2 separate regions of the Homo sapiens genome follow, and region 1 is linked to region 2. Evidence: fine-mapped expression QTL. Tissue or cell type: thyroid. Region 2 holds a variant in brackets; the other region holds the start of a gene. All regions are shown on one strand. Distances are between the middles of the regions. Region 1 holds the start of CCND2-AS1 (CCND2 antisense RNA 1). Region 2 overlaps CCND2-AS1 (CCND2 antisense RNA 1).

Region 1 (5,368 bases), 24 kb before region 2:
GAAAAATGATGCACACAGATAAAGCTCAAAATAAGGTTCCTTGGCCCAACTCCTTGGCAACCAATTAGCTTGCTTTTACTTAGTGCCAAAAAGTGCCTTTATCTCTCTGCTGCTCAAACTCCCCTTTTACATATCAGGCAGAAATTCTGGGGATGTGACACTCAGCCCTTTCCCCTAAATGTTTCACAGGCCATTGTCATCATGACTAAAGGACCACATGGTCATTAGCAACCTCATTTTGCAGATGGAGGTGATCTGGGGCAAGGTGAGGGTGCCTGCTCAGTGTCACAGCATCCCTCAGTGCAAGTGTGGGGACCACACAACCCTGTCTCTTGGGTCTCTCACCAGCAACCCACCTGAAAAAGAACCTTGTTTCCCTCTTTCACTGAGATACTTACGGGAAACTGTGCTCAAAGGGAAACGGTCCAAAATAAAACATTAAAAATATCGTATGTGCTACCAGAAAATATGCCTATCCACTGAGCTGTCATCAGAAGAATGAGAGGCAGGGCCTGTTTGCCAATGCACCCTCTCTCCCATTCACCTGGAGAACCTGGAATCTCTTTCATTTGCTAAACCAGCAACCAGAGCACCAGTCCCACAGCTGTGGGGCTGGGGGTGATTCCCTTTCCCTCCCAGGCCTCAGCCTTCTCATTTGTAAAATAGGACTCTTCCAAATCCCAACTTCTGGGATAAAGGGAATAGGAAAAAGCCAAGTTTGTTTGTAGCAATATATTGCTTGGCTAGTCCTGGAAAGATTTGGGTGTCCTGAAGAACATCTCAATTCACCATCCTCTCGAAACAAATGAACCATATGAAGATGATTTTTCCTGCTCTCTCATGAGAAAAACAAATTGGTTCCCAATTCTAACAATGTTTTCTTCATAAGCTTTAAAATCTGCCTTGGCTTTCTGTGTACAGCCGGGGTAAAGCACCCCAATAAACTACTAAACCACCATCATCTTCAAAGATGGCTTGAAATGCCAGCCCTTCCTCTTCACAGGGTAATGCGAGTACGAACCACTGGTCTTGCACCGTTATTAAAGGAAGCAGATCTCCCAGAAGAAAGCACCTTTCTAGGCCTCTCGGACCAAACCAGAAGCAGCTAAAACCTGGCAGCGGTTCAAAGGTGAAGTCATTCAGGCCCCTCTCCACATTCTCGGCAATTCCTCCCCCAACCTTGTGCATGTCTTCCACTAGATGGCAGCAGAGCCCCAGAAAGGAAGGCTCCTCACAAAGAGCTCAGTTCAAGAAGCCAGCCTCAGCCCTGTGGACTTTGTGCGGGCCCTACCAGTGAGGAGGGGGAGGGGCGGGAAGGAGGGGGTGCTTTTCTGAACAGTGCAAAGAGGGGTGTGCAAACCACCGAAGGTGGGCCTTGGAGCCGCTATTCCATGCGGTACAGCTGCAATATGGTCGTCTTATATGTCAAGCTGCAGGGAAAAGGAGTTAGATCAGGTGGGAAAAAGGTTCCCTGGTAGAAAAGCAGAGATAAGACAGGATCCCTGGGGTTGTACAGAGGTCACAGTCCCACTGGAGGTAGGAACCCAGGCCTCGGACTCCTTCAGTGAAAGGCCACATTTTGACTTTGCTCAAAAGTCAATGAACTGATATTTAGTGAACAGCTATTATGTGTTGGTATCTTGAGACTTTGTAGATATAGAGGGCATTACCTTTGAACTCCAAGTTTTTAGGAGACACCACAGCCACATACCTATCATGTGAACACGTTCTCAGACTATTTTTGGAAATTTGGAATTTAATTAAAATATTATCACTGTTAATTAAAATATTCCATGCGTCCCCTACACACATGCATACACAATTGCAAATGAGTCTCACCAACCCAAATCTCCATGAGGATCTTATTCACAGATGTAGCCTCAGTGCTGGGCACGGAGCCTGGGCACATAGTAGGAACACACAAAAAATAAACAGTGGTTTCCTATTAAATGAGCTATCGCCCATAAGTGGGTAAATTCTATTGGTGGGGTCATTCTGGATCCCAAGAATTTGCTCTGGCAGTGGTGATAGAAGGCATATTGTTGGCCAGGGGAAAGCGGGAATCGCAGAAAGGAAGGGAGGAAGGGGCCGGTCATTACCAGCAGCTCCTGAGGCTTGATGGAGTTGTCGGTGTAAATGCACAGCTTCTCCGCGGTCAGCGGGCTGGTCTCTTTGAGTTTGGAGGCCAGGAACATGCAGACAGCACCCAGGAGTTGCAGATGGGACTTCGGAGTCGGGACCCCAGCCAAGAAACGGTCCAGGTAATTCATGGCCAGAGGGAAGACCTCTTCTTCGCACTTCTGTTCCTCACAGACCTATAATGGGAGTGGGAAAGGGTTGGGGGGCGGGGGTGGAGAGCATAGCATCAGCAAAAGAGAAAAAGAATAAAAAAGCGTAATCTATCGAAACAAAAAAAATTAATTTTTTTTTGTGGGAGGGGGAGGGGACCAGAATGCGTGATAAGAATAAAGAACAAAGATGAGGAAACTGGAGTGAATCAGAATAGCCCATCAGTGCTTTGGTATTCCCAGGGATCCTATAAAAGGGGGTGAACTACAGCTCCAAAACGGGGAGTCGGAGAAGTGCGCAGCAGCCGCGGCAGCTCCGCGACGCTCCCTTTGGCTACTCCTTCGCGCACTCTAACTCACTCACTCTTTTTTGGATTTCGTCATCTTTTCAAAAAATCAATAAAAATATTCTGGAGGCTCCGGGGGTCCACTTCTTGGTCTCATCCGGATCCCCAGATCCTCCTCTATCATTCCCGACAATTGGAAAAAATGTCTGGGGGGGTCCCTGCGGCCCAGGGGCCGCTTTTGGGGGGGCGGGTGAGGAGAGGTGGGGAAGAGAGGGGGAGGGAGGAGAGGAGGAAGAGCGCCGCAGCCTCGGCAGCTGGAGTCGGAGCAGGGGGGGATGGTTTCAAAAAATAATTAAAAATCGAGGAAATATCCTAGAAAAGCCCTTTTGGCGTGAAAACCCCAAAGAAGAGCCAGGCTTCCCGAAACAGAGGTTTCGGGTGCCAGAAAGGTCTGTATTCCGACCCCTGGGGCTTTGGATCCCGGGAGGAAACTTGAAGGGGTGAGCGCCGCGGCGGGAGTGTCCGGCTGCGGCCCACAAGGACAGAAACTAGGGAACGCGGTGACGAGCGAGGGGAAAGACGGGAGCAGAGAGCCCTGGAAAGAGGCACGGGGGGCTCCCACCTCTCCTTCAGGGGTGACCCGGTATCCCCCCTACACACACCCCCTCCCCCCCTTCCTACCCCACCCAAATCTCCGCACCGAGGAAGCTGGAAAACCAAACTGTAAGTAATCTTCGTGAGGTGGGGGGTGGGGGAGAGGGCACGATTAGAAGTGGGGTGGCCGGGATAATGGGGTGCGAGGGTAAGCGGGCGACGTTTCCCAGCCTTTCCAAAGGGAGTTTGCAAAGCAACATGGCGAAACCACGGCAGGTCCAGAGCTGTGCATACGTGGGCACACGGCTCGCTGGGCAAAGACTTGGAGTGAGGGGCAAGAAGCGGTTCTTTTGGGTTCCCCTGAAACACGCGTTTCTTCAATGGGACTTCCGGGGCTCCCGAATTCCCCGTTTCTCTCCTTCTCCCTCCTCCCTCCACCTCCCCGGTGAAGTGCCAGCGCGGAGTCGCGACCACAGGCGGGGACCTGAGGCCAAGACGAATTTGCTCTGGCCTTTTGGGGGGGGTTGCCTTTCTACTCGGGGTCCCGATTTCAGGCCCCGACTCTCTTCCTGGCCGCAGCGCAAGCAGCCGCGGCGGCTTCGCAAAAGACAGGTCGCGAGGGGGGTGGGAAGAAGAGGCAGCCACATGCAGGAACACGCGCGCGGGATGCTCCCCTACCCCCGCCCAGGACAGCCTCGCTTCTCCCAGATTTTCCTCCCCCCTCTGCCTCCCCAGTTTATCTGGAGAGGAACAGAAATAAAGCCACGCGTCTCGCCAGAAGGCGCGCGGTAAACTCCCGCACAGGAGCCGGGAGGCCGGCGCGGGGATTGCCCTCTCCCAGGTTTAGGGCTCCGGCCGGGGACCCGAGCATCCGGAGGGGTCCTGGCTCCTGGCGAGCGCCACCCCCCGACCTACCTCCAGCATCCAGGTGGCCACCATTCTGCGCATGTAGGGTTGGATGTCCTTCTGCACGCACTTGAAGTAGGAGCACTGCGGAAGGTAGCGCTCCTCGATGGTGAGCAGGTTCTGCAGGACGCGGTCGTCTCGGAGCAGGTTGCGGTCCCGCACGGCCCTGCGGACCGGGTCCACCTCGTGGCACAGCAGCTCCATGGCCAGCCCGGCGGCCCCTCTCCCTCCTGCTTTCCCCGGCCTGGAAAAAGGTTTTTCTGTTTTTGTTTTTTGGAAGGGGAGGGGAGAGCGTTCCCCTGACCTCCTTCCTTTGGCTAAATAGGGGGTTTTCGGGGGAGAGGTGAGGGCAGAGAGAGAAGGTGGAGCAGAAGGGAGGCGAGGATTGGGTGGTGGGCGAGCAGAGCCTCGGGGCTGCCTCACTCGCACCGGTCCTCCCCTTAAAACTGGTCTCGCTCTCCCCTGCTCGCTCTTCTCCGCTCTGAAGCGGTGACGCAAGCTGGCTGGGCAGTTAGCTCTCCTCCCTCTCCCCGCGCTCCCCGCTCTGGTTCCTCCTCCCCTTTCCTCCCCTCCCGGTCCTCCCCTCCTCCTTTCAATCTCTCCCTCCCTCCCTCCTTTTCCCCTCTCGTTATTAAGGAGAACAGCAGCTGGCCCGACCCAACTTCAAACGCGGTCCCCCGCCACCCCCCACCCCTCTCCCTCCATCCAGCCCTGCATGCCAGGGGCCCCGGACAGGGCAACCCACAAAAAACTACCGACTCCTATTTCTGCCCTCTAATTTCACTCATTCTGTAGGTGTAGCACGCCAAAATACGACCCTCCAACTTTGGCTTCTTCAAAACGGATCCTAATCCTCCTGCCCTTGTATTTAAGATCCAGGAATGTAGGGTAGATTATCTGAAGATGGGGTGACCTCAGACAATTTAGAAATAGGTCCCTTAAGTGAAAAATAAGGGAGGGGGTGATTTTAGAAAATAGCAACCTCGCATACCCAGAGATAAAGGTCATGTCCCTGAAGTCTGTGTTCCTGATAACTTCGAAGCTGTTTCGAAAGCCCCGATTAAAGGGACCAGAACAACGTCCCTTCTGCCCCCCCCTGCAGAGTGTGTGCAGAGGAAGAAGAGGGAGGGAGAGGTGGGTATTAGGAAGGAAGGGGGGTGCTTCTCTGGAGGGATAGAATGTGATCCTCGAGCAGAAACCATCGTGTTTCTGGGGGCTCTTCGGGCGCCGTGGGGCGACGCGGTGCAGCGTCTAGGGCCGCCGCAGGCCGGGGGCAGGGCTCCCAGCGGTTCC
Region 2 (5,368 bases):
CTACATAGCATAATTTAGGATCCTGTGCTCAAATTACTGTATCCATAACTTTTTGTCATCCCACTTTAAAGAAAATGAAATTAGAAGTCTTAGACAATGCATTCTGAGTATGGCTTACATACTCAGTAAAATGGTATACAGCTCTAATCAACAGACCCAGACTCAAAAAGCTTTGGACTGCTACCAAGAGATTGGTAAATAAATGTACATTAACTTTAAATAAAATGTGTATGGTATGTATGATTCATTTTTTATGATTTCTCACTTTCCCAACATTTTCAGATAACTCATCGTTTCCTCAGTCACATCAGAGAGATCCTGATGGTTTTCTTTTTGGAACTTAACAGTTTAAAAACCTAAATAGGATCATGCCAAACATATTGTTCTGTGACTTGATTTTTTTCAGTGAATAATCATCTCTTGGAGTCTTGCTATGCCAGTACATATACATCTACTTCATTCATTTTAAGTGCAGAATGCTTTTCAATAGCAAGGATATGCCAGAATTTTACGACTTCCCATAATTAATGGCATTTGGGGGCCCTCCTTCACCAGTTGTTTGCTTGTATACATAATGTGCCATCAGCATCGTCGCACTTGCTTCTTTATGCATTCAAGTGCCAGTGGAAGGAGAAAGAGCTTGAAGTCCTGATTCTATCAATTAAGTGGTCCAAGAAAGAGAATGAGCATCTTGAGGTCTCCATCTTCAACAGCCTTACAGTCTGGAGGGAAGCAGACACACACACAGCTTTTACTTAGGGAGACGGGGGTCAATTGAAGGTTAAGGGAGTGCAAAAAGAGGGAGACTGAGGGGTTCAGTCGAGGGGATGACTGAGAAGGCTGCCTGGAGGAGGTGTGCTTGAGTCCTGGGTTCAAGGGTTAAAAGGCTCTGATACTTGGTCTGCTAATCTTTCTTATCGTATCGTTGCCTGGCAGTATGCCTGTTATTTGAGTGGACTCTTCTTGGACCATTTGCTTGGATGAACAGTGGGCAGAAGTGGAAAGGAAGGGTGCTCTGGACAAAGGTGACAAAGCCCAGGAACAAAAGTCGGAAGGTGCACAGTGTGCCCAGAGGGCCAGGAATTGGGTGGAGTGACTGGCTCCTTGGTCGCTTGCAAGTAGCATGAGAATAGAGAGGGCTGGGAGATGCATTAAAAAGCACCAGGACAAATTTAGGTTTGCACAGAAAAGGACGTTTCGTCAGGGTACGTGAGGAAAGTTGAGTAGAGAATTTAGGAATGGAGCAGACGACTCTGGTTGGGATGATGAGAGCGGAGAGACAGATCCATGTTCTTTCCAGGTGCCCCAGCAGCTCCAGGTCTCGCTGAACCTGTTACTATGGCAGCGTCTATGCTTCACTTTTGAGGATTGCTTCTGCTTTGAAATAGCCGTGTGGAAGAAAAACTACAAAGTTTTGAGGGGGAAAAAACCCACCTAACTTTAGCTGCCGTTGTGTCTTCATCTGTAAAAATCTTCTTCATGTCTCATGGATTTCAACATGCAGTTTATCTTGGTTTGTTCCATAAAACATCAGATGCAACTTTAATGGCCTAACCCCAAAAAGATAACTTGGCAGCCATCAAGCATTCAGCAGCGTTCCAAATGCCCTCTTGCTGGAGCCAGCCTTCTACGGGGCCATGTGGATGTCAGGCACACACAATTTGAGTCACGCTGACATAGCTGGGATGCCTGGATTGCACTGGAATCTGGGGGGTACCAATCACAGGCCAGAGAGAAGCCATTGGCTGGAAGGAACAATGCCAGCGTGTTCACCGTCTCTGCAGAAGGAGGGGGTGTTGATGGTGAGGGGAATGACAGTTGCAGCCAAAGGAGCAAAATGACCCCAAAGCAGGGTGGGCACATGTCATTGATGCTGGGCAGAAGCACTCCAGGGGCTCAGGTCATGACCACACCCCTTTTCTCCTGCCCCACAACCAGAAAAACTAAGAAGGTACAAGATTTTCCCTAAAACTTAATGTACAGAATGCCCTGCTGTCTTCAGGTTTTTGGGAAATCCAGGGTTGACAACAACAGCCCAAATATATGAAGCACTTACCTCTACCAGGCACTGTCTGTATCTTACAAATAATTCGTTTAATTCTCACAACTCCTTAATGAGGTAAGTTTTACAATTTCCATTTTATGATGAGGGAAACTGAGGCTTAGAAAGATTAAGAAACTTGCCCAAATCCTGCAGCCAGAAATGGGCAGAATCAAGACATGAACCACAGTCTCTCAAAAGCCAAAGCCTGGGCACTCACTACTACCCTCAACAGCCCGGTGGCTGGTTCATGCCATCTCTGCCACCCTCACACAGCCACCTCTTGGATGGTAGAACCCTGTGTGTTGAACAAGTAGAGTAACATTCTAAAAGGATTCTTTTTCCTCCCCTGTTTTCCTGGGGGCTGAGTAGACATGTTTAAACATGCTGTTCATCTGACACTTGTTTACTTCAGTGGCTATGATGTGCAAGACCCCAGACCAGGAACAGTAAGAGGGCATGAGGATAACCCAGCGTGGAGACCACTCTGGAGGAGGCTGCAGACTGGAGGCGCTGTTGTAGCCAGCTGCATTTTGGAGGCTGGGTTGCCTGTCTTAGATCTCTAATGAGTTTGGTCATTATTTTTTCAGCCAGGGTTTTCTTCCTCCCTCCCTGTCTTCCTTCCCTTTCTCCTTCCTTCCTTCATTCCTTCCTTCCTTTCTTCCTTCCTTCTTTCCTCCCTCCCTCCCTCCCTCCCTCCCTTCCTTTCTCTCTTTCCTTCTATCTTTTATTTTCTCTCTTTCTCTGTCTCTCTCTTTCTCTCTTTCTTCCTCCCTCCCTCCCTTTCTCTCCTTCTTTCTTTCTCCCTCCCTCCTCTCCTCCCTCTCTTGGTCTCTCTCTCTCTCCCTTCCTTCCTTTGTTCTTTCAAGATTTTTCTTTCTTTCTTTCTTTCTTTTAAAGGTGTAAGCCTTTTTCTGGTTCACTACATGCCAAGGACTGCGCTAAATCATTCACATAAAACCACCAGCGTGCATCACCTCATTTGGTCCTCCCACAGTCTAACGGGTAGGTACTGTCATTA[C/T]CCTCATTTTAAGAAAATGAAGAAACTGAAGCTCAGAGAGGTGAATTGATGTCTCCACCGTCTGCCTGATTCAGTACCCTGCACCCTTAACCACTATAAAAGAACAACATGCCAATAGTTCCCTAATGCTGTAAAAGGCACTGTTTTAAACGCATCCTTTATATCAACTCACTCACTCCTCCAAACAGGCGCAATAGAAATTACTATTATCCTTGTTTAATACATTGGGAAACCAAAGCACAGAAAAGTCATGTAATTTTCCCCAGGTCACCCAGCTAGTAAGTGACAGAGCTGGGCTTCTGTTTCACCGAGGAAGACATTCCTCAGTTTTTGTTCTGTTTTGTTTTTCACTTGAAATCCCCCGCGATGGCCCAGAGTGGAATGCCAGGGTCCTGAGAATAAAGTCTCTGAGCTGAACTGGGAAGGGGTGCCAGTGGCAGCTGTGTCCCCTACAGCTCTGGAAGGTGGAGGCGGTGGAGACAGCAACTACACAGCAGCCACAAGCCTGGGTCCCTGCCAGGGGAGACCTCAAAGTCCCCTCGAGGGTTGGCTTCTCTGTGCTGGGCCGTGCACAAAGGCGAGTCATGGCTTCCAGGAGGCCAGCAGAACATGGTCCTCGGGAGAGGAGAAAGCCCGAGGGAAGGGCTGATGGGACCTCAGCCCTCAGCTCTGAGAAGGGCTGCTCTTTAGGAGAGGGGATGTAGGTAACAGCTCCACCAAGAGCCAGGCAAGCAAAAGTAGGTTTCTGTTTGAGCAGCAGCTGGGGAATTTCAGGGAGAGAGAGGAATCCGTTCCCAACAGTGCATAATGTTCAACCCTGGAAGAGGTGACCATCAAGGGGGCCTCTAGAAAGAGTAGACGGGCTGCCCTTAGGCTGGCCTCTTTATTATCTCTGCCCCTGACCTTTGGGAATCCTGTCCATCTTTGAGTCCCTGGCGCCAGTGACTCCACTCTGCGAATCCCTTCCTGACCAGCCATCCCCCACACCCGTAAGACTCCAAGTTCTTTTTGGGGGACAGAAACCCCAAGTGTGCTGAGGTCCAGGCTGCTCCACATTCATCCCTGGGTGGGCTGTGGCTCAAACCAGTCATTTGGGTGACAGAAGTCTCAGACACTCTGGAAGCTGGCCCAGTTGGTCCTGGTGCCCCCAAGAACACTCATACCCTATTCTCCTGCAGCAAATATACCCTCTCTACTATTCGTTTGGCCTTGGCTATTAGGTATCATGTGACCTCGCTGGTGTGGCATCTCCTGGTGTTAGCGGCTTCTTGCATGAGTACATTTCTCAGATGATCAGACAACATTTATTGAACACTTACCATGTGCCACCTACCGCTGTAACTGCTTTATGGGGTTATCCATTTAATTCTCCCAAGAACCCCATGAGTTGATGTTGTTTTTATCACCATATTACAGAGAAGGAAATGGGGGCCTAAGTGCTCAGTGGCTACAGGATGAGCTGGGACTCAAACACAATATTGGAACCCCAGCCATCAAAATCTGTGATTTGTCCCTGGTTTGTGTCTCAACCAAAAGAAGTCAGAGTCTTTTTTACTCCCTTATATCTCCCGTAGCTCCCGGCCAGTGTCTGTATACAGTAGTTGTTCAAAAGATGTGGGCTTTTACTGACTGTTCAAAGACATTTCTAGGTTGGTTTTTTAATGATCAGTGAGACAGGGTGCCCTTAACAGGACAAAATAGTGTTGAATCCTTGGTAGACAAAATCAGGTGCTTTTTGGAAGAAATGAGAGAGAGATTTGCAGGCCATGTATTAGAAAACTTTGTTCCAAGTCTTTTTTTTTTTTTTTTTGAGACAGAGTCTCACTCTGTTGCCCAGGCTGGAGTGCAGCAGCATGATCTCGGCTCACAGTAACCTCTGCCTCCGTGGTTCAAGCAATTCTCCTGCCTCAGCTTCCCGAGTAGCTGGGATTACAGGCGTGCACCACGACGCCTGCCTAATTTTTGTATTTTTGTAGAGACGGGGTTTCACCATGTTGGCCAGGCTGGTCTGGAACTCCTGACCCCAAGTGATCTGCCTGCCTCAGCCTCCCAAAGTGCTGGGATTACAGGTGTGATCCACCATGCCCGGCCATGTTCCGAGTCCTTAAGGTAACAAGGAGAAATGTGAGAAGCCCATTTGGGAATGAAGGATGCAGGAAAGCCCTGTAACTGAGGCAGCCAATCAGAAGCTTTCATTAACGGCCCTCTTTCTTTTGTCCCCCACTTCCAGAAGAATCTACCATAAAACCAACAGACTCCTCCTGATCTCTACCTGTGCTGTCTGCCTCTCTAGTTCCGGACACTGA

Evidence for each region.
Region 1: CCND2-AS1 starts here. The variant in region 2 is fine-mapped to the expression of CCND2-AS1 in thyroid (GTEx, PIP above 0.99). The same link has a PIP of 0.9 or more in transverse colon.

Annotation. Positions count from the first base shown.
Region 1 is chr12:4,272,952-4,278,319 of GRCh38, reverse strand. CCND2-AS1 (CCND2 antisense RNA 1) reads left to right here and starts at 2,136. Exons shown (of 2, transcript NR_125790.1): 1 at 2,136-2,261. It overlaps CCND2 (cyclin D2), which reads right to left and starts at 4,558. Exons shown (of 5, transcript NM_001759.4): 1 at 4,085-4,558; 2 at 2,100-2,315. The coding sequence starts at 4,279. RefSeq lists silencers at 4,628-4,717, 5,248-5,367.
Region 2 is chr12:4,249,118-4,254,485 of GRCh38, reverse strand. It overlaps CCND2-AS1 (CCND2 antisense RNA 1), which reads left to right. Exons shown (of 2, transcript NR_125790.1): 2 at 5,293-5,368. Among named protein-coding and RNA genes, the nearest start is that of CCND2, 22 kb to the left of the region's middle. The variant C/T (reference allele first, on the strand shown) is at 3,063.